Linked DNA regions of Homo sapiens. The protein of the gene in region 1 purifies or fractionates together with the protein of each later gene. This does not show direct contact. Each region holds a gene or a part of one and is shown on either strand. Other genes may lie near its edges.

Region 1 (9,210 bases):
TAGTTCTGCCAAATAAAAATCCAAAATAACTATTCACAATAGCAAAGACATGAAATCAACCCAAATGTCCATCAATAAAGGATAAAGAAAAAGTTGTATATATCCACCATGGAATATTATGCAACCATAAAAAAGAATGAGATCATGTCCTTTGCAGAGATATGGATGGAGCTAGAAGCTGTGACCCTCAGCATACTAACAGAGGAACAGAAAACCAAACCCGCATGTTCTCACTTGTAAGTGGGAGCTGAACAATGAGAACATATGGACACAAGGAGGGGAACAAAGCACACAGGGGCCTGTGGGCGGAGGGGGAGCAGCAGAAAAAATAGCTAATGCCGGGTTTTAATATCTAGGTGATGGGTTGAGAGGTGCAGCAAACCACCATGGCACACATTTACCTATGCAACAAAACTGCATATCCTGCATGTGTATCCCGGAACTTAAAATTAAATTAATTTTTTTTTTTTTGAGACGGAGTCTCACTCTGTCGCCAGGCTGGAGTGCAGTGGTGCGATCTCAGCTCACTGCAACCTCCGCCTCCCGGGTTCAAGCAATTCTCCTGTCTCAGCCTCCAGAGTAATTGGGACTACAGGCGCGCGCCACCGTGCCCGGCTAATTTTTGTATTTTTAGTAGAGACAGAGTTTCACCATGTTGGCCAGGATGGTCTCGATCTCTTGACCTCGTGATCTGCCCACCTTGGCCTCCCAAAGTTCTGGGATTACAGGCATAAGCCACCGTGCCCGGCCTTAAATTTTAAAAAATCCAAAATATTCAAAGCGATGGCTCAAAATAATAGCATGCTAAAACTTCAAAAAGTTCTTTAACATTTTAGTGAAAGAGAACCTCTTATTACTCACGAAGCCATCTTTTCTAATAACTTTACATTTTAACTCTGAAAAATATTTATAAAGTAAAGTGACTCATGAATACAGCCTACTTCATCCAAAATAGCCAACATTTCCACAAATGCCACTTACTGGCATGCGTTCTGTCACACCTCCAATCTTAAAGTTCATCGTAGATCTCACGGTCTGGGCGCCATAATACTTATCATTTGGCACCTTTAGTTCACCAAAGGTATCATATTCTATCCGGAAGGAATTTTGGCTTGCCTAAAGACAAGAATACAACACTATTACAAGTTGAAAAGAAACCCAGGATCAAAAGTAATCGCATCTTATCAGCTGTTAAAGAGAAAGAAACCTGAATAAGTATCACAAAGACAAAAAAATACTATTTGGATTCTCATTCTCTTCCTCACTTTCAGGTCTTTCCTTGAGAGCTCTTTGTCACACAAACTTATTAATTCAGGCTTTAAAGACAGACTGTAGAACTAATATACTATGCTGGTGATAAACATAAAGACTTTGAAATACAAATAGTAATCTTTTCCATTTCAAGAGTATGCTTATTACTGGTCAAGATTTGGCCAATTCAATGTACTTAGTTTAATGCTTATTTTACTGGGAACTTTTGAAAACGGTCTAAGAATGATTATTTGAAATTTATAAACATTATTTATATATAAACATTATTCACATATATTACATATGTATATTCATTTATATAAGAAATGTATAAACATTATTTACATATATAAACACTATATATATGCCATCATGCTACCAAGTCAGTATCACAGTTGGTCTGCCTGTTAAATATTCTCATTCTCAATGCACTTTTTAATGCATTTTTAATAATCAATGATCACACTAATTATTCATGTGTGATTTATTTGCTTATTTAACTGCTTTGCTTATTTAATCTCCACTAAAGACAAGAATAAAACACTGCCTGTAAAACCCTATCCCCATAGGGACTGTCTTATTTACAGGGCCTGGTAAGTGGAAGGCACTCAATAAACAGTATCTTTCTATTGAATGAATTTGTATGTGTTCTTTTAAATAAAAGGTACCTTAGGGCATCAAGGGTTATGTGAAATTCTCAACATTAGCAACAGGAAGAACTTTTAACAAAACCAACAGAGATTTTGGACCTGAGAATGGTTAGAGGGCAAAAAGTACCAGAACTAGAAAAAACAAAAACTACCTCCATCTGATTTTAGCTAACATTACAATTCTAAGAGCAAAGTAGTGCTGCTATTTTTTGACATTTGCATCAACAGGATAGATTCAGAAGTTCTCCAGTCTGCTTCCCTTTACAAAACACTAAATAAACAATAAATAAATTTAAAAATATGTAAAGGTTTTAAAATGCCCTAAAATTATTCGAGCAGGGAGTTCGAGGAATACAAAACATCTCTGATTCTGTAGTATAGTTGTATATCGTAGGTATAGTGACCCAATCAAATTATCTTGAAGTTTAGAGTCCAGAAAAAGTACTGGCCCTTTGAAATACCCTAGATGGGGCACTTATTTAATGAGCACTCGCTACATGGTATTTTCACATGTGCAGTTTTGCTGAGTAGCTGTAAGTATTTCAACTTTGCATACGGATTTGAAATCACATCTCTTAGATTGCAAACCTCATGCTACACCAGTGCAGAACTGTAACTCTTCAACTATCATTTCTCAAACGTTTCCTAACAATATACATATGTATTTAAAGCTTTTTAAAAGCCTGCATTCCTAAAGATGACACTCTAAAGAGCAAAATGACTTACGTAAGCATGTCATAACCTGAACTTGGATCTTTAAGTTCTTAGCTGGCTTTCTGAATAAAAAGTACCGATTCAGCTCCTAGCCAATCTGCTCAAACATGCTTCAGAACACTATGCCCGCGGTATTCGGAATTGAAGAGTTTTACAACAATTACGGGGGAAACCATAGTCAGCCTAACAAACTGAGCATGCAATTTCAAAGGAAGTAAAATCTTCGAAGAACCTTCTACCCCACCTGGAGGGCCTGAAAGCAGTGCAGTGCCCCTTGGCGAAACAAACCACAGTTCAGAAACCACTAGATGCACAGGCGGCCAGTGTCCGGCCAGCAAGGCCCAGCTATGGGGCAGGACGGTGCGGGAGCTGCCCCTCTCCCAGCACCCTCCGCCCACGCCGGCACTGTCCTTGAGGGCAGCGCCCCGGGGCTGGGGGCCTGCGCGCCAGCAGCAGCGAAGTTACCTCAAAACGCCCCGGCCTCGGCCCGCCACGGACGGCTCCGAGGAGGCGCCGGGAGCGGGCCCAGTAGGACCCTCTCTGACAGCCCCCGTCCCTCCCCAAGCGCTCTCCCGGGCTGCGGCTCCATCCCTGCGCCGGAAGAGGCGTCCCGAGGCCGGGAGGCCCGCCACGCCGGCACGGGCGCTAAGCCCAGAGTCTGGCGCGGCCCGGACGCCCGGGGAATCTCTCCCGCCAAGTCGCGGGCGCCCAGGCCGGCAGGCAGGAGGGCTGAAGGTCACTGCGGGGAGGCCGGGGGATGGCGGCCTGCGCTCACCATTCGAGCCGCGTTCGGAGGCCAAAACGAGGGCACGGCCGCGCCACCCAAGCCGGGAGCCGAAGCTAAGGCTGCGGCTGGAGCCCGCACGAGGGGACGCGAGCGCGCGAGGAGCCGAAGTGCTCGGTACATGGTGCTGAGGGAGCTTGGGTAGAATTTCTGGGCGGCTGTGGCCACGCCTCCACGCCGGTTGTCAGAAACCGTTCCGCCCACCGGCCTCCGCTCTTATCCAATCAACAGCCTCACACCGACAGGTGGGGCAGGACCAATCGTGAATGACCAGTAAAGAATGAGGGGGCGGGTTAACTTTCTAGTAGTAGTGTGGGGTGTAAGGCCTTCGGATTCATGGGAAACTAGAAAGAAGGGAATTATGGGAAAGGAGGCTCAGGTTATTCTTGGAGCCGGTCTGATTTTTACGTGTGGCTGTTAGAAGGCGGGAGTATTAGTTGGTGAATCAGGTCGTGTTTGGTTGGTGAAATATCCTAGAAAGAAATATTTATTGTTTTATTTATCATGTAATCACTCATTACACGTTCTTACTACTGAAATCTTTCTTCATTTCTTCCAGATTGTATCTTCTGTGTAGAAATTTTGGGAAGTGCAGCAAAGTGTAGATAATGAAATAGTAATTATTCATAATCCCACAACTGAAAAATAAGCTACTTACTTATTTCTTTTAACTTATCATTTTGAGATCGCTACCGTTTCCTTTCTCTTCTTAGCCTATACCCTCAGAACTCTTTTTTTTTTTTTAATGTATTGTGGAAGACGTACACAATTATAGGGAACCTCGGAATTTTTATTATTTGTATATCGTTCTCCCAGTTTTTTGCATAGCTAATTTATACATTTTCAAATTAAAGGCATATTGTTTTAATATAATAGTTGATTACAGAAAAGCAGGAATTGATATAAAATTGCATCTGAACCACAGTTTTATCTTTTCTCTTTTCTATTGCTTGGAACCAGATGACAGTAAAGAGAGAGCGATCGGATGTTCTTAAAATCAAAAGTCCAGAACCTGCAAAGCCAAATTTATGAGTCAAACTTACAAACTTGCCAAACCTTTTGGTAACATTATGTTATTTTGTGACTTATAAATTTGACACATATTTAAAATATAAAAATTCAAATGAGATTGTAATAGTTGAACTACAATCAAAACACACTAGAAAACTGAATGCAAATTCTTTAAAACATTGCTAATAATGGAATGACGTTTTGTTTTTGTTCTCCTCCTTCCCAGCAGGTATCATTATTGTGTATATCATTATTTTGATGCATCCTTTCAGTTCTGTGTATTTTTTGCTTCATACACTAATATACAAACAATGGTTTTAATATTTTACTTTAAAGTTTTACTGTTGCATAATTGAACTCTATGCTTTTAAGATATAGCCATGATCTTTTAAAATTAATCATATTGGATCACATGAATATGAAATATTTTATTTATCCAGTTTCTTAATAAAGAACATTTTTCTTTGCTATTACACAAAATTATTTAATGAACATATGTTTATCATTTCTTCATAGATCATCTCTTTCTTCATTGTGTGGTGCCCCTCTTTATTGTTATTGTTGCTTGTCCTTTTAAACTTTTTTTAATATTGATATTTCTCTACCAATTTCATATTGGCTATTATTTGCCTGCTGTATATTTCTCATTTTATTTTATTTTTTGTTTCATTTTTGTTTCGAGCATGTCTCTTATTTCTACCATACAGTTTAACTTTTCAAAACCCAAATTAATAGCCTTTTTATAAATAGGTTATTTTAATCCCTTTTAAAAATTACCTATGACACATATTATGTTCTAGAATTTTTCAAAGCACTTTATATGTATTAATTCTTGGAACACTCAAAAACAACCCTATGAGATAGGTCCTATTATTATTCCTGTACATAGAAGAGAAAAATTGATGCCCAGGAACATCCACATATTTATTTGTGTGTTTTACTTCGATTTATTAGTGAAACTGATTTTCTATCTGCAGTAGTAATATGAAGTTCCATTTTTAATTATTCATTTTATTTGAAGTAAAATATTCAGTATAATATGAAGATGCTATATAAATGACTAAAATTTAGGAAATATTAACTTAGCTAATTTATTTTTATTAATTCGTAATAAAACGTACATAAAGCCTTTAATAAAGGCTAGATATCTTCATTTTAGAATGACTTATGTTATCTATTTGAAATAATGTTTTTACTTTGCTTAGAGTTTGGGTTTTTTTTTTTTAACTTTGGACTTGTCTGATAATAATATTGACCTGCTTTCTTCTTGTTGATGCTTGCCTGGTTTGTTCTTGTTTGTTTTACTTTGCTTTCTGTTTAAGGTAGGGGATGTGATTGGTGTCCTGCTGAGGGACAAGGGAAAAGTGCAATGGTTTTCTCTTGCCTGTGTTCTAAATCTCAACACCTGGCTGACAAAATTGATTGCGAGGTTCAAATTGTATCAATCAAAATGTTCTCCTTATTCAAACTAAAGACTTTTGCAAATTCTAATTTAGGATACCTCCCAGCCTGGGAGATTACCAGTGGGTTTCCTAGAGGAAGCTTAACAGAAAATTTGCAAGATACACCCATAAAAGTCTCCCAGAAAGTAGAGCAAATATTCAAAGAGAAGGAAAATAAAAGAAGTAAATAAAATTAGAGAAACAGTTCAGTATGTCCAACATGTGAATAATGTAGGGGAAACATTAGGAAAAAATGGAATAAACCTTAAAAAAATAAATTCAGAAAAATATATTGTAGAACTAGCAGATATGAACTAGCCAGAATGAGTTATGTCAACAAGAAATGTTAGAATACCAAGGGCAAAGAGAAGAGACTGGAATCTTTCAGAGAGAAAAATAAATAAGCAAAGGATTAGAAATCCTTAGACTTCACAACAACAATATCGGAAGCCAGACAGCAGTTGAATGATGTCTTCAAATTGTTAACGGAAAATTATTTCCAACTTTATATTCTATACCCAGAGAAATCAAGTGTGTGAAGAGAATTAAAATGTTTTCACATGATCAAGATGTCAAAAAATTTACTTCTTATCTACACTTTTCAAGAAAACGCCTCAAGTAAGTGCTCCACCGTAACTAGGAGTAAACAAAGGAAGAGGAAATTATGGACTTAGAAAATAGGGTCTTCGACACAAGAGACAGATGTGGCATATTGCCTGGAGGAGGCTATGACAGCTGTGCACTTACCTTAGAGAGCAACCATCTCAGATGGAAGCAGGTCACAGCCTCTGGAATAGATTTACTCAAAAAGATAAAATTGCTAATGCCTTGAATATACTGAGAAGGAATTTAGCTGATTGGGGGAGAGTTTGAGGGTTACATTTATAAGTCTTAGAAAAGTAACCAAAGGGAAAAAGCATGACAGTTATTAAACTGACAAATAAAGATAGTTGTATTTTGCAGAAAAGGGAAAATAATCATTATCAAATTTGAATGGCCATAGTTATAATAAATCAAACGTTGAATATTGATCTAACTGAAATGTTGATGTAACTATACTGAAAGGATGGGGAGATGGAAAGAATGTAGAAGTTTGGAGAGATTCAGACACGGTGAAAAAAAAAACATTAATCTTCGTCTTCAGTAGTGAGAAGTCATGATCTAATACCTAAAACCATAAACTGGACAGACAGAAATAAAAACCAAGAGGTAATCTTTAGAGATGTGGAAGTATATACCCAGGAACTGGAAGGGATGCCTCTGTGCAAGGATAAGTGGCGGAGAGGTAGCAAGGGTGATGACTGTTTAGGTTGGATGTCTTGCAGAACTTTTTTATTCCTAAGACTAAGTGCACGTACAGAAACTTTGCAAAACACTAAAATTACCAACTCAGAAAGTTAACCAACCTCTCTCTCCATTCTCCAGAAAAACTTCAATTCCTCAATGTGCTGGATTCCATTACCCCTCAGAGACACTACCCACTCTTTTTCTTACTTTGTCTGGTTATTTCTCTTAATTGACCCATAGAATAAGTTAATACTGTAACTTTGCTGTCTCAGCTCTCATGTTAAAAACAAACAAAAGCTGCTCTGACTTTGCATCCCACTTCAACTCCCTCCTCATTTCCAGGACATATTTGATCACCATCTTCACTTCACTTCTCATTCTTTCTTCATCCTATTACAATCTGCCTTCAGTACATGTCACTCCATTCATACTGCCCTTTCCAGGGTCACCAGTGACCTGCAAGGTGCAAATACAATGAACAATTAGTTTCCTATGTTTGCAGCAGCATTGACACAATTGACACCCCTTCTCCTTGGAAATACCTCTTTCTCGCTCTTTGAAATATCAAAGTCTCCGTATTTCCCTCTCCCAAACTTCCACTTTGTTTCACTACCTATTCCTTCACACTGTTCTTTGACAGATTTTCACTTATAAATAGGGAAGGGCCTCAGGGCTCACTCCTAAATAGTCTTTCCTCTTTAATTCATTTTTAAAAATATAGTGGGACCTCAGGTACAGAGTGTTGAGTAAATACACTGACCTTATGACATGTTATGGAGTATAAGATCCATTCTTATTTTATTTAAATATTTCATTTCTATTCCTATTTTCTATTCATATTTTTACTCTCTTTTTTGATTTCAATAGTTTTGGGGAAACAGGTGGCTTTTGACTACATGGATAAGTTTTTTAGTGGTGATTTCTGAGATTTTGTTGCACCCATCACCTAAGCAGTGTACACTGTACCCAATGTTTAAGTTTTTCATCCTTCACCCCCTCCCATCCTTCCCCCTGAGTCCCCAAAGTCCATTATATGGTTCTTATGACTTTGAGTCCTCATAGCTTAGCTTCACTTAGCTTCTTATTCTCCTATACCCTTTCTCCTTTCAAACCCCTAGAAAACTATTATAATGTGTTTATTTTGTATCCTTTTGTTTAGATGTATTCTTGTAAAATTTGTACAGTTGTTTTGTGCAGTTTAAATTTTTATGTAAATGTTATTGAATTATGCATGCTATTCCCTTTCTTAACTATCTTCTCAATCAGTTATCTTTCCATAGGTGAAATCTTCATTCCCATGATTTTCAGTACCATCTTTATGTTGATATACTGATGGTGCCAAACTTATTTTTCCAACCTAGGTTTCTCCAAGCTCCAGATTTACATTTCCAACTGTGTGCTTAGTATCTCTATCTAACTCAATACTCACATCTCAAACTTAATATACCTAAATGATAAATCTTAGTTGGCACCCCGCCCTAGTCTTTCATGCTCAGTAAACTACTACCAGTTAGTCAAGCTAGAAACCTGCAAGTCTTCCTTGATTCCTGAACTCTGCCTCCATTTCCCAAACATATGCGTACACTATGCCAAATTTACCAGCAGATCCTGGTCATTTAACACAAACTTATATCTTGAATCCATTCACTTTCCTCTCTTTTTACTTTCACCAATATATATTTGTTTAATAAAACAAGTAAACTAATAAGCCTGGTAGTTTCCTAGAATAGTGAACACAATAAAGGAAACAAGATGTTTAGAGAATGATTGAGAGGTTGCTTCTTTTAGATAAGGTGATCAAGCTAAGGATATTGTATCTGAGCTGAGAACTAAGCAATGAGAGCCAGCTATACAATGATAGAAGAGTATTCTAGGCAGACAGCTGCAAGTACAAAGGGCTTGGTTAAACGAATAAACAATTGTTGAGCAAGCTGATGTCGTCAAAGGGAGATAATTCTGTCAATTTCAACAGTCTGAGAATGATGAAAACATCGGAGTAAATATTGTTTTAATTAATCCTTTGCTAAATTTTAATTTCTTTTCATAAATGTTTATTATTTCCAATAATGCT
Region 2 (8,308 bases), on another chromosome or scaffold:
AGCGCCTCTGGCTCCTTGTCCCCTTCACCCAGAATTCTTCCCTCTGCCCTTCACCGTCCTGGTTTCTTGTTATTCAGGCCTCACCTCCTCAGAGAAGCCTTCCTTGACCGCTTAGACCAAAGTAGCAGCCCATCATGCTTTCATCCCATCACCCTGTTTTGCTGCATGTGTTTCTATTCAATCTGTTCAAATTGTCTTCCCCCATTAGGATGGCAGCTTCCTTTTTTTTTTTTTTTTGAGATAGAGTTTCACTCTTTTCGCCCAGGCTGGAGTGCAGTGGTGCGATCTTGGCTCGCTGCAAACTCCACCTCCCGGGTTGAAGTGATTCTCCTGCCTCGGCCTCTCAAGTAGCTGGGACTACAGGCGCCTGCCACCACACCTGGCTAATTTTGTATTTTTAGTAGAGATAGGGTTTCACCACGTTGGCCAGGCTGGTTTTGAACTCCTGACCTCAGGTGATCTGCCTGCCTCGGCCTCCCAAAGTGCTGGGATTACAGGCATGAGCCACAGCGCCCAGCCAGGATGTCAGCTTTTGAGAGCAGAAGCTGCATCTGTTTTTGTTTGTCGCTGAATCCCCAGGGCTTAGAAGACTGCTTGGCACATTCCCTAAATGTTTACTGAATGAATAATTAGCAACCTGACATTTTGCACAAATTTTTCCTTGTAGGACTTCTTGAAACTGATTTGTCTGCTGTTATATCTGACCTATTTCCTGCTTATAGTTTATATTCTCCATTAAGATTCTGAGACAAAAAAATCCCCATGTACTGTCAGTTCTTATACTTTTCATTTTCCAAAGCATTTTCATTGGACTATATAAAAGCCTTCATTGTTCCTTAGACTGTGTGTGCGTTTCTTTTGAAGTTTAAAGTATTATTTGTGGTAAACATGGCAGAGGCGGCCCTGGACACGTAAATAAGCGTTTCTTGTGCGAGATTCCCAGGATTTCTCCCCAACATGGGCTTATTTCCACAATAGAAAAGGCACTTTGCCTTTTCATGTGGTTTGAGTATTTGGCAGTGATGTTATTACAGAGTGTATGGTTGCGATTGTATCTAAAACAAAATTGAAGCAAGAACAAAGATGGGGTTGTGTGAGTGTGTGTATGTGTCTGAGATTTTAATGACTGGTTTGCTTATGATTGGAAAGAAGAAAATTCCTATTTATTTCAGCTATTTACTAGATTAAGCAACTTTCAGCATTTCTCTGGCACTTTCTATTTCAGTTATTAATGTCTTTGAAAATTTGATATTTGAAGGGGAACCGGATACTCTTTTTTTTTTGAGGCAGAGTCTTGCTCTGTCGCCCAGGCTGGAGTGCAGTGGCATGATCTCGGCTCACCACAACCTCCGCCTCCCAGGTTCAAGTGATCTCCTGCCTCAGCCTCCTGAGTAGTTGGGATTACAGGCATGTACCACCAGGCCCAGCTAATTTTTGTATTTTTAGTAAAGACAGAGTTTCACCATATTGGCCAGACCAGTCTGAAACTCCCAACCTCAGGTGATCCACCCACCTTGGCCTCCCAAAGTGTTGGGGATTACAGGCATGAGCCACCGCACCCATCCAGATACGCTTAACTATGAGATGTTTCAGAAACCAAAAGTTTTCTCCCACTTATCAACCTTAGCCTAAACCATCTATGAGGAGTGGGAGGGAGATGGGGGAGTTGTACATATGGTGTTTTGTTTTATTATGCCTGTTGTATGCCTTAGGGGATATTTTACTTCTATTGTTTACTATTTATTGCCTAGTTTGTTTTCTTCTGTGCCTCTCGCATAAATTTCATGAGGACAGTGATTTTATTTGACTTGATTTTTGGTTGGGGGAATTATTTTTTCAAGTTCTTTTTAAAACGGGCTTTATTTTTTTAGAGTAGTTACAGGTTTACAGAAAAAATACACGGTGATTATAGGGAATTTCCATATACCCCGCTTCCCCGCAGTTTCTCCTGTTAACATCATGCATTAGTGTGGTGTATTTGTTACAACTGATGAACCGATTTTGATTCATTATTAACCAAGGTTCATAGTTTAACATTCATTCTTTGTGTTGTACATTCTGTGTATTTGGAAAAATGCACAGTGGCATGTCTCCCCCATTACAGTATCATGCAGAATAGTTTCAATGCCCTAAAACTCCCTTGTGCTCCTCCGCCTCATCCCTCCTTTCCCTTCTCCCCAACCCTTTGCAACCACTGTTATCTTTTTCTCTTTTCTTTTTTTTTTTTTTGGAATGGAGTCTTGCTATGTTGTCTGAGCTGGTTTTGATATCCTGGGACTCAAGCAGTCCTTCCGCCTTGGCCTCTCAAGTAGCTGGGATTACAGGCATGCACCACCATGCCCAGCTGTTTTTACTGACTCTGTACCCATTTCCAGAATGTCAGATAGTTGGGATCATACAGTATGGAGCCCTTTTAGGCACTTTCAGTTAACAACATGCATTAAGTTTCTTCCACATCTTTTTGTGGGTTGGTAGCTTATTTCTTAATGCTGAATAATATTTCACTGTGTATGAATGTACCACAGTTTATCCATGGACATATTGAAGGGCATCAAAACTTCAAGGACAGTTTTTGGTAGTTTATGAACAAAATTGCTATAATCATTTGTGTGCAAGTTTTCAACTCATTTTGATAAATACCTAATATTTTCTTTTATTGTATACTATTTATTGCCTATTTTTTATTTGCCTCCCCAGTAAGCTCCATAAGGACAGTGACTTTTTTTTAAGAGGGTTGCAGGGACGGTTTTTTTCACTGATGTATCCTGAATACCTAGAACAGTGCTTAACATCGTAGTAGGCAACTCAGTAAATATTTGGCAAGGTCTTTAAAAACTATCTTAACCCATGAAGGACATGAAATTACACATTTTTGTTTTTTGGGTTTTTTTTTTTTTTTTTTGAGACGGAGTCTCGCTCTTGTTGGCCAGGCTGGAGTGCAGTGGCGCGGTTTCGGCTCACTACAACCTCCACCTTCCAGGTTCAAGCGATTCTCCTGCCTCAGCCTCCCTAGTAGCTGGGATTACATGCGCCCGCCACCACACCCAGCTAATTTTTGTGTTTTTAGTAGAGACGGGGGTTTCACCATGTTGACCAGGCTGATCTCGAACTCCTGACCTTGTGATCCACCCACCTCGGCCTCCCAAAGTGCTGGGGTCATGGGGGTGAGCCATTGTACCCGGCTCATTTTTGTTTTTAATTAGTGCTGGCCCACCATTTCTTTCTGTGTGCTGAACTTCTTATGTTTATTCACAAGAGATACTAGCTCCTAAAAAAATCTGCCAGTGTTGAGAAACTAGGTAATGGAAAACTCTGAAGTTGCAGTCTCCTTTTAACTACAGTTCTGCTTTAGGCAGAGTCTGTTGAGTTTGCCATCAAAGAAGAAAGAAAAAACACATTATTTCTTCTCTTCTTCCACCCACAGCTGTTGCTTTAGCTTGTAATATAATTTCTTACATCGATAGGGTTTATAACTTTAATTTTGTACTGTCTCTGTGATTACCTCAATTGTTTAATCTTAGTTCTGTATTTACATGAATTCCTGACTGATCACTAGTCTTGTCATAGTTTCTCCCATCCCTAAATCTCTTATTGTGGATTTATTTCTAGACTGGCTGGTTCTGGTCCTCCAGTCGTGTGTGTGTGTGTGTGTGTGTGTGTGTGTGTGTGTGTGTGTGTTCATGTACATGTGCATTTTTTTTAAAGATGGGCTCAGGCTCAGTTGCTTTGTTCTTTATCATCAAGATTTTATGTTTGTGTGTATCTGTTTGGCTCTTAATTATACTTAAAACATTTGTTTAGTCATGTTATTTTTTTGAGAAGTGTGCATACATCTGACCTTACTGATCCTGCTTAGTAATGTGCATGTATATTTTTACATTTAGTTCTAAATGGAGCCCCTGGATTTATAAACTTGTGCGATGCTTTGAACGCCTGGCAGCTGGTGAAGGAACTCAAGGAGGCTTTAGGTATTCCAGCCGCTGCCTCTTTCAAACATGTCAGCCCAGCAGGTAAAGCTCTGTGCTCTGGAAAGCTCCAGAATTGTTCGAAAGGCATTTCTTCTTAAATTTTTTTGAATATTAACAAGTTCTAATGTGAATATAGACATGCTATGAAATCTGAAAGTCATCTGTTGATAACAGTATCAATGTAATAATATAAAATCTGATACACACACACACACAGAATTGTGTAATATTGTCAGGAAAATGAGGCAGGAATTTGTTTGTGGGGTGGAACCATAAAAGTTTAGAAAATAAAAGTGAAATGTCCTAATGCAATAGACTAAGTCTTGTGCCACATCTTTGAAAATGTAATGGAGTAAACATAAAGAAGTTCTTCTTTGGACTCTTTATCTGAAACTTCTTATAGTCGTTGTATGAGATACTTTGCTTCTGTGTTTAAATCATGAACTCCGCAATTGAGTTGTCTGTACACCACATCTTGCTGACAGTCCTCCAGCACATGATTTGTTCTCAGGTGTTTATTGGGTGTTAAAGTGATGTGAGTGGGGAAGAAATAAATGATGTGTGATATCAAAGTGATATCAAGCAGAACAGAGAGAAAGAGTGAGTCAGTAATGAAGTAAACGAGCTTCACCTACACGCTGGGTACTGTCAGGCTTCAGTGGCTCTGTGGTTTTGGAGGGCAGAGAGGAGATTTCCCTCACACTGCTCCCACAACCATATTTTTAGTGTATAATTATCTGGCTAAATAGATTTCTGTTTAATTTAGCACAGGCACTAGAAAATGTGCTGCGTAGACTGGGTGTTAAGAAAACTGTCTTGATTTAGGAGTTGACAGGTAGTAACTTTAGCTTTCTTTGTTTATGATTTTACTATTTTCTAACCAGGTGCTGCTGTTGGAATTCCACTCAGTGAAGATGAGGCCAAAGTCTGCATGGTTTATGATCTCTATAAAACCCTCACACCCATCTCAGCGGCATATGCAAGAGCAAGAGGTCAGACTCATAGGGCTTTTTGATTTGGGGGAGAAAGAAAAAGCAATATTTTATCCTAAATAGAATAAAGAGGATAGAATAAAGAAAAAATATATAGATATTCTGTATAATATATAGATGAAATTAAGGACTTCTATCTCTATGTAAATATACAGTTATTCTATATAATATAGTTTGATTAAAGTAAAATACCCTTTGTTTCATTATAGGATTTCCTATTTAATTTGTTTTATTAATATTTGAGATTGATTCTGTGAGTACCTCAAAATACATTTCTTTATAAAAGTGTATGTTAGTATTTTAGGCCGGGCGCAATGTCTCACGCCTGTAGTACCAGGACTTTGGGAGGCTGAGGCGGGCAGATCACGAGGTCAGGAGATCGAGACCATCCTGGCTAACACGGTGAAACCCCGTCTCTACTAAAAATACAAAAAATTAGCTGGGCGTGGTGGGGGGTACCTGTAGTCCCAGGTACTCAGGAGGCTGAGGCAGGAGAATGGTGTGAACCCGGCAGGTGGAACTTGCAGTGAGCCAAGATAGCGCCAGTGCACTCCAGCCTGGGTGACAGAGCGATACTCCGTCTCAAAAAAAAAAAAGTATTTGTTAGTATTTTAGTGTAATAAATGGAAACACAATTGGAATTTGGTCAATGTAATTTTGCTAATTTAGGCTATTGAATGCATTTGTTATTGTTTAATATGTGACCAAAATTGAAATTACAAAAAGCTATTCTTTTTTTTTTTTTTTTTTTTTTGAGACAGCTTCTTGCTCTGTTGCCCAGGCTGGAGTGCAGTGGCGCCATCTCAGCTCACTGCAACCTCCACCTCCTGGGTTCAAGCGATTCTCCTGCCTCAGCGTCCTGAGTAGCTGGGATTACAGGTGCGTGCCACCACACCTGGCTAATTTTTTTGTATTTTTAGTAGAGACATGGTTTCACCATGTTGGCCAGGCTGGTCTTGAGCTCCTGACCTCAAGTGATTCACCTGCCTCAGCCTCCCAGAGGGCTGGGATTACAGGCGTGATTTATGGCTCTTCTAACTTTACTACATTTGGTTAGAGTCATGTTTTATCAGAGACATTTACTTGTTGAATTTAATAACCCATGAATATCCCTTTAGTATTTCTGAAAGTTCTTGAGAAACTATTACCATAGTTTATCATCTACAGCAGTGGTCAGCAACTTCAGCTGAATCCAGCCTGCCACCCTGTTTTTGTGAATATAGTATATATAAATTGGTCCTTCACAGAAAAAGTTTTCTGAGTGTCACTCTAGAGGGTAAAATTAAAGAATACTTTCTTACTGGTTACTTCAGTTAAATGACTTATTGATCTGTTAAAATCTTATGTAAACAGTAAGATTAGCTTTAGAGTAATGAATTTTATATGACAGTGGAGAATTTTATTACTTTTTCTGTATCAGGATACTTTGTGATAAATACCTCATTTTAATTTTATTTACAGGGGCTGATAGGATGTCTTCATTTGGTGATTTTGTTGCATTGTCCGATGTTTGTGATGTACCAACTGCAAAAATTATTTCCAGAGAAGTTAGTGGACATTCATGTATCTTAATCTGTGTGTTGAATAAAGCTTTATTTGTTCATAATGTTAATTGAAACCATAACCTATAATATTTATATTTATAATATCTTTTAATTAGCTAAGTTTATCATTTAATGTTCATATTTTAAATAGAACATTAATCTTAAATTGTTAATTTTGAAATGTAGTGAATTATTGTTTCAGATGGATATTTGGCTGTTATGATGTTTTTTACTTATATATTTATTTTAAATTCTTTGTTGTCTTCATGCCAAAGTTACTGTTTCTGAAGAGCAGAAGTTGTAATTTTAGGTGGTGATGCGATATAATCCATCTTACTGCATAGTGGGTAAAAAACAGAAACTACATTAATAAACTTACCCCATCAGTTGAATACCAAACAGGTATTCCAGACAGGTGGGGGTACTGTTGGTAGTAGGAAGACAGGAAGAAAAGAGAAAAAGATTAAATAGCTCAGAAAGGGGAAAAAAATAAGCAGAGGTGAAGGCTGAAGGAGCATGTGGCTTGGCACTATTTTGTTGCTTTAGGATTCTTTCCATGGCCACTGCCATCCCTGGGTTACAGGTTACAGGAGGGCTGTGACATTTGTATCTTTCGTCATGTCAAATCTCTGATTTAATCTGGTCTTGCTGTTAAGGAAAACGCCTTGCCGGAAGAGGTCATTTAACCATGTACTAGGAGAGTCAGGACTAGAATGTGCTCTTGCTCATTCAAAACACTCCCTGAAGAAATATTTCCTCCTGAGGTACATGTGTTAAGAGCAAATCAGTCATATTTTCTTAGTTTAAACTGAAACGAACAAAAACTTGGAGAGGACAGAAAGTTAGGATCTGCTATACAGAAAGCTGTATTCTAATAGATTTCTCTTTTCAAGTATAGCGTTAGCATTGTTTGTTGGAGGCAGAAACCAGAATATGCTGCCACATTATTTAAGACTGATAATTGCTGCTAGATTTTTTTAAGAGGTGTTCTCTGATTTTTAAAAATAGAAATTAAAATTTAATATTTTTGCAGGTATCTGATGGTATAATTGCCCCAGGATATGAAGAAGAAGCCTTGACAATACTTTCCAAAAAGAAAAATGGAAACTATTGTGTCCTTCAGGTGAGTGCAATTCATGTTTGAAGCGGTAATTTGCTCTTTTATTCTGTGTCTCTTTCTCCCTTGTTTACTCTTTCCTTTATACTCATACCCTTCTAGTTTATCCTTATTATAGTTTATTTTCCCCAATCCTGCATTTAAAAAAATACTATTAACTTGGGGTTTTGAGATGAGAGTAGCTTTCTTACCCTCAATTTTAACTTTTTGCTGGTTGTGATGGCTCATGCCTATAATTTCAGCCACTTGAGAGGCTGATGTGGGAGGATGGCTTGAGGCCAAGAATTGGAGGCTGTATTGTGGTACTATGATGCCTGTGAATAACGACTGCACTCCAGCCTTGGCAGTGTAGTAAGACCATGTCTCTAAAATACTAATAATAGTAACAATATTTAATGGAAAGTCTCTCCATCCTTCTGTTACCTTTTGAAAAGATAACTATTTTAAATTTCTTGCTTATCTTTCCTGAAATAGTCTATGTATTCAGCAAATATTTGCATGTGCATTTCTTTTTCTATTTTCCTATTGACACAAGTGCACCCTGCTTCACCTTCTTGGAAGTTTGTCCTGTATCTGTGTATTTTAACTTACCTAGACAGTCACCAATCTTTAGCTACTACAAATACCCCTGCAGTGAATAACCTAGAAAAGTCCTGAGAGTGAAATTAAGGCTTAATAACAAGCTCT
Region 3 (8,308 bases), on another chromosome or scaffold:
AGAAAAAAACAACCCCATCAAAAAGTGGGCGAAGGACATGAACAGACACTTCTCAAAAGAAGACATTTATGCAGCCAAAAAACATGAAAAAATGCTCACCATCACTGGCCATCAGAGAAATGCAAATCAAAACCACAATGAGATACCATCTCACACCAGTTAGAATGGCAATCATTAAAAAGTCAGGAAACAACAAGTGCTGGAGAGGATGTGGAGAAATAGGAATACTTTTACACTGTTGGTGGGACTATAAACTAGTTCAACCCTTGTGGAAGTCAGTGTGGCGATTCCTCAGGGATCTAGAACTAGAAATACCATTTGACCCAGCCATCCCATTACTGGGTATCTACCCAAAGGACTATAAATCATGCTGCTTTAAAGACACATGCACACGTATGTTTATTGCAGCATTATTCACAATAGCAAAGACTTGGAACCAACCCAAATGTCCAACAATGATAGACTGGATTAAGAAAATGTGGCACATATACACCATGGAATACTATGCAGCCATAAAAAATGATGAGTTCATGTCCTTTGTAGGGACATGGATGAAATTGGAAATCATCATTCTCAGTAAACTATCGCAAGAACAAAAAACCAAACACTGCATATTCTCACTCATAGGTGGGAATTGAACAATGAGAACACATGGACACAGGAAGGGGAACATCACACTCTGGGGACTGTTGTGGGGTGGGGGGAGGGGGGAGGGATAGCATTGGGAGATATCCCTAATGCTAGATGACGAGTTAGTGGGTGCAGCACACCAGCATGGCACATGTATACATATGTAACTAACCTGCACATTGTGCACATGTACCCTAAAACTTAAAGTATAATAATAATAAATAAATAAATACATACATACATACATAAATAAATAAAGAGAAGACTTCTGGATTGGAAGGCAGAAAATGAGTGCAATTAGGGAGGGAATGCAGGGGGATTTAAACTGAATATTAATGTTCTATTTCTTAAGCTGGTGTTATAAAAATGTATAAGTACTGCATATATTTTTAAAATGCTACATAAGCATATTTTGTACATTTTTATATGATAAATTTTACATTAAAATATTTTAAGATAAAAAATGTGTTTTTTATGTTTGATCTTTTTCCTTTACTGTCTAAATAAGTTTAAAAGGCTTCTTGACAAAGTAAAAGACAGGAGCCTAATTGTTAAAATGAACTGTAGTAGTATCTCATAAAGTTCCCGGAAAACTTGGGATAAATACTTTGATAGCTTGCTAGAAGTTGAAAAATTAATTCACCTCGTGAAAATATGAGACTAAAATATTTCTTAGGTTCATTTCTGCCTGGAATCAGGTGCCTCAAACTCGTAGTTTTTTAATTTTGTCTGAATTCCCTAGGAATATGACAGATAATTTATTTCTTAATTCTTAGTACTTTTTTTTTTTACTTAAAGCAGGAAAAAGTGAGTTCATTTCTAAATTAGTGTTATTTATTGAGGTCCTACTCTTTGCCAAACCCTGGTCTAAGCACTGTGGTAAAATGATCTAGATCAAGTCCTCCTGCTAGTGGAGGAACTGACAATGAATGAATAAATGCATAATGTCTATAGTGGAAGTACTGTGAAGACAAATCAAGTAGATTAACAGCAAAGAGAATTAATTATCACTGGCCAGGCAGCTGATATTCCAGACTGGTGGCCAGGGAGAGCTTCTTTGGGGAGGTGACACTTGGTAGAGACCTGAATAAGGTAGGAGAACGAGGCAAGTGGAGATAAGAGGGTTTGTGCTCTGTTCAGAAGGAAGAGTAAGTACAAGGTGCTGAGGCAGCTACAGGCTTGCCGTGTTTGGGGAACAGGAGGGTGGTGAGGCTGGAACAGCACATGAGGCAGAGAGTGATAAGGATGGAGATTGAAGAGAGGCAGGAGTCAAATTCATGCAAAGTTTGAATTTTACGGAACGCAGTGGGAAGCCTATGGAGTTTTGAATAAGGGTGAGAGTGATGTAATTTGAGTTGTCTTTTGTAACTATCACTGTGGCTGCTGGGGTGGTGGTTCTTTTTTTTTTTTTTTTGCTAGGAAGCCAAGAGCAGAAGCAGCGAGAGAGGGTTTAGGAGGCTGTTGTGTTAATTTAGGAGGGAATGGAAGGTGGCTAGACCAAGGTGGTAACAGTGGAGTTTGAGAGAAGTGGTTGAAATTGGTGTTATGTTCATGGTAGAGCCAACAGGATTTACTGGTAGATAGGTAAGGGGTGTAAGAGGAGTCAAGCATACTGTGTAAGATGAATGAAGCACAGGCCTTATCAAAGAGCTCTGTTTGGAACATGGTGCATTGGAGACGTTCATTAGACTCCAAGAGGAGGTGCTTAGTGAACGTCATATCAGGGGAGAGTCTAGAGCCAGGATAGAGACTTTGGAGGCATCAGCATATAGTATTTAAATCTGTATACTAGATGAGTGTCTAGGGGCTGAGTGCAGAGCACCTCGTTGACATTTAGAAATTGGGAAGAGAAGGAGCAGCAAAGAGAAATGGGAAAGAGTGATTAGTAAGTAAAGAAGAAACCCAGGGGCATCTGGCAATTTGAAAGAGAAGGGAAATTTTAAAAAGAAGGGAATGATCAACTGAGTGTGAAGAGGTTGGTAATACAGGGCCTGGAATTGAATCATTGGATTTGCAAAAACAGAGGTCATTGACAACTTTAAGAATTATTCCTTTTTGGAATAGAGGGGATGAAAATCTCATTAGATTCAAGAAAGAACCAAAAAGTGAGGAAGTGGTGACTACGAAATGTAGAATTCTTTCAAGTGAGTATAATAGCTAGTTTGACAAAACCAACTCCTTCCCCATTTTTAAATTTCAGTAAAACTAACACTCAGCAACAGCTGGTATGTAGACACATCAGAAAATTATGTAACTAGAATATAAAAGAAGCCTATTTATTGACTTTGCCTTGCATTTGCATATATTTACCCCAGTTTTCTAGATCTGTATGTAAAACACTCAACTATCATTGTTGGTATTTACAGTGATTTTTGAAATACATAAGCCGTTCCAAAATAACTTTGTATATTGATATGTGGCTCAGAAATATCTTTCATATAATTTATCTTAGTTCCTATAGTAAGATCCTCATTCATCAGTTATTCCCTAAGTGCATTAATCTTTTTTCTAGCAGGCAACTTGGTTAATGTCTTTAAAGTAGCCTTTATTTAAGAAAGGTTTTGTTTCAAACCATAGTTGAAATAAATGTACCAAAATTTTCTATTTTCTATAGCAGCTTTTTGTAAAACGCACTTAGTCTGTTTTTCCACTAGGGGGTGCGGTAGGGATGAGAATGGAGTTCTACATTCACATGGCTCCATTTTGTGCAGTGATGGAGTGTGGCAATGGATGCTTGTTTTAATTCCCGGAAATAAACCGTCAAGAATAAAAGAACATGATGGCAAGACAGTTTTGCTTTATGTTCTTCCCTCCAAAATTGGTAGTATAATTAAAAGGCAATAAACATAAATAAAAATCAATAGCATTCCCTAGATCAGTAATGTCAGAAGAGTAGATAGGAGCAAATGTAACATTCACAGTAGCAAGAGAAACCACTAAGTACCTATAAATAAACCTAAGAAAAAAAATAAAGCTTTTATGGAGAAAATAATAAAACTATTGAAGGAGGTCGAAGAAAACCTCAGTAAATGGAGACATATACTATGCTCATGGGTGGGAAGATAGGGCTTGTTGGTTTTCTCCAAATTTACTGATTCTGTGAATCCCATTTAAAATCTCAACAGGTGATATAGGTTATTGAGGATAGCTGAATGATAGATTTTTGTAACTATTTTATGTAGGAAAACAATACATAGACCATTTTATGCAAACTGTTTTTTCAGGGGAGAGGGAAAGAAGGACTATTTTTCACATTCAATATACAACCTGTACATACAAATAGTAAAATGAAAATAGTCTATCCCTCAGGCCATAGAACTTTCAGTTCCTCAAATGCACAAATTTTCTTTTGTCACTGGACCTTTGCTTGTCTGTTTCCTTAGCTCCCCTTAGACCACTTTGACTAAGTCCTGCTTGCCTAACACTGCTTATCTTTGAAGTCTCTGGGATGCTTTTCCCTCTGAGAAATTTTCCCTCAGTAGGCTTGTATCCTTATTATCTACCTCTATCAGAGTGCCTCTATCACAATCAAGACCTATGCAAATACCTGATGATGCCTTCTCCCTCTTCTGCAGGTGAGGGAGTTCAATGGTCAGCACTTTATTTTGGAGGAAGCAATTACAGGGGATTTTGCTTTGGTGAAAGCCTGGAAGGCGGACCGAGCAGGAAACGTGATTTTCAGGTATTGTGATAGTTTTAAAAACACTCGTGCATATCAGCAACTCTAAAAATGGACATCAGAGTGAATTTGGAATTTAAAAATGTATTTTCGTAATGGCCCAAAATCATACATGCCCATGTGTATTGCACATATATAGGTGTGTGCAGGGCTGCTGGTATGTCCACTTGTGGGAGTCTGTTTAGACTGGTCGATATCTATGTTGCACTGCTTGTTAAATATTTGGATCTATATGCCCTTTTATATAGGCACATGCAGTTGTTTTTCTCCTTGTGTATTTTAGTTGCCAAGACCAGTTACATGCTTAGAAAATGTGACATCATACAATTTTATTTAATTGATATTGTAATTTACATGTATTGTCTTAAAATGTCAAAGCTAATTTGATACTCTGGAAAGATACTGCTAATAATCATTGGGGTCAGTCCTTCAGTCCTTTTGGTGTCTTCTAGGAAATGCTTACAAAGGTTCTATCTGAAAAATTGATTAACCTTTATAATACTGAATTTTCAATCCTCTCAGCCACAGACTTTATAGATTTTAAAATCTTTTGGTTATTCTAAGCATACTAAGTATTTATATCTTGGATTTATAGATTTATATAGTTGTTTTTTGAGGAATATGAAACCTTTGAGTGTACACTTAAGAGTTTTCCAAACTGATCTTGAAGACTTTACCTATCAGATTACAGAAATCATTGTTTTTGCTTATTTATCATTTGCTGCTTTCGATTAACAATTTTTAAATCTTTAGCAAATGCAGCTTTGGTGCAATTACAGTTAAGTTCTCAGTGATACTCTCATATCACTTTTTATTTCTGAAGGACTTATGTGATATTAATGCTCTTTGATTTCTTTAATTTAGCCAGTTTTTTAAAGTACAACTAATTTTGGCAATAACAGGAGTAATTTTACATCATCTTTACCTTATTTGACACGTTTGTGTAATATTTACACGTTTAGTTGCTTTTTAAAAAAGATTAACAAAATTGTATACTACCAAACAGAAAGGAATTATTGAAAATATTCCCATGTTTATTCTGCGCTGCAGTGCCTGGCTCTGGTATTTGAAGGCTGCACAAGGGCTATTCTGGGCACTGACTTTATGCTGGTGGTTAATGAGTTCGGGTGTGAAATGAAAGCTTGCATCACCAATGGTCAAGTGACCTTAGGATTAACTTCATATTTAGTGGGACAGCTGGAACAGAAGTCTGTCTAGGTTATTCAAGTGGGGGACTTGGGACTCCTTTGCCTCTGACCATTCTGCCCTTGGAGCTTTTGATGCCTGGATGTCTGGTGGGATCTAACCCAGCAACTTGTGAAAGTTCACGAGGGCTCCTTTCTCAAGGATGCTCCTATTCCTGTACTCATTCTTCAATCTGAGCAAAAGAAATATTGGTGGCTCAAAAGAGCTAGTAAAACATAGCTGTGACTTACTTCCTTTTACCAAAGAAATTCTGCCATCAACGTATATTCCCAGAGACAAAAAATATGTTTTAATTTTTACCATTAGGGGAACTGTATTGAGGAACATCAGAGTGCAAAACCATCGGCAAAATTGGCACCTGCTAGAAATTTTTACACCTCGGGGTCTGATGTGGGTGTTATACTTCCAAAAACTTCATCAGAAAATGATTCTCCAGAATGATCTTTATAGTTGACTCACAAATTATCAATGAATGTTTCATTTAGTTTCAGCAATAGGCTTCTCTTCAATAGAGAATGTAATTACTGTACCTTCTCATGTGAAGCATTTGCTACTTTTCCTTTCTTAATATTTTAATGAAAGCAAGTGGTTGAATGAAATATTTAACTAATAGGGACAAAGCATACTTGTTAAAAGATTAAGGGAAATTAACTTCAAATAAGATAGATTTATTAATATTCCTTTTTTTGTTGTAGCTATATGTTGAATGTGAAAAATAGTTCCTCTTTCCCTCAATCCTGTTCAAAACAAAACTATATACATTGAATAAAGTAGTTATGGTTTTTAAAATTTATGAGATATTTATGAAACTTTATTAATGGAAAATATGATACACTCTTTTTGGAAAGATTCTTAGATTCTTAGTTCATAGAAATTCTAATCTATAAAACCTTAAAGGTGACAGAGATGCTTATTTTTCGTCTTTTCCCCCCCACTTTCTTATCTCCTCCACCCCTGTAGGAAAAGTGCAAGGAATTTCAACTTGCCAATGTGCAAAGCTGCAGAAACCACAGTGGTAGAGGTAAGAGGTTATTTTTGAATTCTTGGTGTTAATTATTTAACTTGATGTTAAGTATTAATTCAAGAAAAAGTACCACAGTTCATTTGTTTTATGGATAACAATGACAGCTTTTTTTTTTGTTTTGGAAATGGATCCATTCTATCTAAATATATAATAGTTAAAATTTTGCTGTAACTTCAGCTTTCTGGTTAGATAGGGTCTCACTAGAATGCTCTCTTTGGGAATCAAGCAATGGGACCAGCTTATAAAAGTCTTTTGATCCTTAAATGAAATAGATCTCCTTGAATGAAATCCCAAGATGAATTTATGTATGTGGAATCCCTGGAAAACAGTAAATGTGTCAGAAGAAGTTCATGATCTTACTGTGATAGATTTTGTGATTTCTTTAAGGGAAGAGCATTGCACATATAACTACTTTGATGTGGTTCAATTCAGAGCAAATTCAGGCACTGACTGTCCTTTGGGTATCTCAGTGTTTGGAAGGGGCTTGGATAATTCTGCAGCCTTTCCAGGCTTAAGGACCCAGGGCAGAAACAGGGGCTTATACCAAAACCGTGCCATTTTGGTTGTAACATATTGAACCTCAAAGAAGACTTCAAATGGTTCTTAACTTGAGGCTTTGAGGATCAACTTGGAACCCAATTTTCGTGGGAGTTTGAGGTAGTTTTTCCTTGGGAGGGCTTTATAGGACCCCTATTGGGATCTGGAATTGAAAATACATAGGTTCCTGATTGATTTTTCTCATGATGGCAGGTGTTGTATGTGGTATCTTTTGATTCATTTTTACAAGGCCAAGATAATGTTTCATGAAGTCAGTACAGTGTATTTTGAAACAATCAAATGTTAGAGTTTTGTTCCTTTCTTGGAAAATGAAGTGTGCTATTTTTAAATTGCTGAAGTATATGTTACTTTCAACCGAGGCATGGTGGTTTCTTTTGCAATGGCTTTACATTTTCTGAATTTAAAATGGATAGTGTGGCTTACACTTTCTGTGTAACCTGTCTTTAATTTATTCATCCATCTTAATGACCTGTCCGTGGCACACAACTATAGCATTACTGAAAAAAGGCCTACAGCATAGCTTAAAATAATCAATAGTTTTACACCCTGTTGACTTCCTGTATTTCTGTAAAACTGTCAGAAACCAGTATTTCTTTCCAGAGTACAGAGGGGCGTTATGCATTATCCTGGGTGAAGTTCTCTTTAAAATTTTTCCTGTTATAATCTGGTTCTTTTCAGTTCATCTCATTTCTTACAAGAGCAGAAAATAACCTTGTGTTGAAGAATCATTGCAGGTATTAGGAAAGAGAGGCTCTCTTTTGGCCTAAGGAGAGAAAATCCTTTAACTAAGCCTGCAAATGTAATAAAGGCTTCCCTCCTGTGTCCCGGAACAGACATCTCTGATGGATCACAGAATGCTTTCCTGGTAGGCCGAGACACACATTAGGGTCTCTTTCAATACAGTAATGTGCGCAACCACTCCTAATTCACTACACTCTCCAGTATGGTAGCCACTAGCCACATGTGACTTATAAAATTAAAATTATGGCACAGTGGCTCAGGCCTAATTTATCGCAGCACTTTGGAAGGCTGAGGCAGGTGGATCGCTTGAGCCTAGATGTTCAAGGGCAACATGGTGAAACCCTGTGTCTACAAAAAATTAGCCAGACGTGGTGGCATGTGCCTAAGTCCCAGCTACCCAGGAGCTGAGGTCTGAGGATCGCCTGAGTCCAGGAGGTCAAGGCTGCAGTGAGCTGTGACTGTGTCACTGT

Evidence for each region. Proteins that work in one complex are often made in the same cells at the same time.
Region 2: the proteins of FH (region 1) and ATIC fractionate together in Homo sapiens (co-fractionation; 2 studies listed by BioGRID). This does not show direct contact.
Region 3: the proteins of FH (region 1) and OXCT1 fractionate together in Homo sapiens (co-fractionation; 2 studies listed by BioGRID). This does not show direct contact.

Annotation. Positions count from the first base shown.
Region 1 is NC_000001.11:241,516,201-241,525,410, forward strand, and holds the start of FH (fumarate hydratase, mitochondrial), read right to left. Parts: upstream 3,556-9,210; 5' UTR 3,523-3,555; coding exon 3,391-3,522; intron 1,117-3,390; coding exon 982-1,116; intron 1-981. UniProt on the Homo sapiens protein: Catalyzes the reversible stereospecific interconversion of fumarate to L-malate. Experiments in other species have demonstrated that specific isoforms of this protein act in defined pathways and favor one direction over the other.
Region 2 is NC_000002.12:215,328,498-215,336,805, forward strand, and holds part of ATIC (bifunctional purine biosynthesis protein ATIC), read left to right. Parts: intron 1-3,884; coding exon 3,885-4,010; intron 4,011-4,852; coding exon 4,853-4,960; intron 4,961-6,421; coding exon 6,422-6,507; intron 6,508-7,537; coding exon 7,538-7,627; intron 7,628-8,308. UniProt on the Homo sapiens protein: Bifunctional enzyme that catalyzes the last two steps of purine biosynthesis.
Region 3 is NC_000005.10:41,838,679-41,846,986, reverse strand, and holds part of OXCT1 (succinyl-CoA:3-ketoacid coenzyme A transferase 1, mitochondrial isoform 3 precursor), read left to right. Parts: intron 1-3,329; exon of another isoform or gene 3,330-3,406; coding exon of another isoform or gene 3,407-3,412; intron 3,413-4,205; coding exon 4,206-4,312; intron 4,313-6,475; coding exon 6,476-6,536; intron 6,537-8,308. UniProt on the Homo sapiens protein: Key enzyme for ketone body catabolism.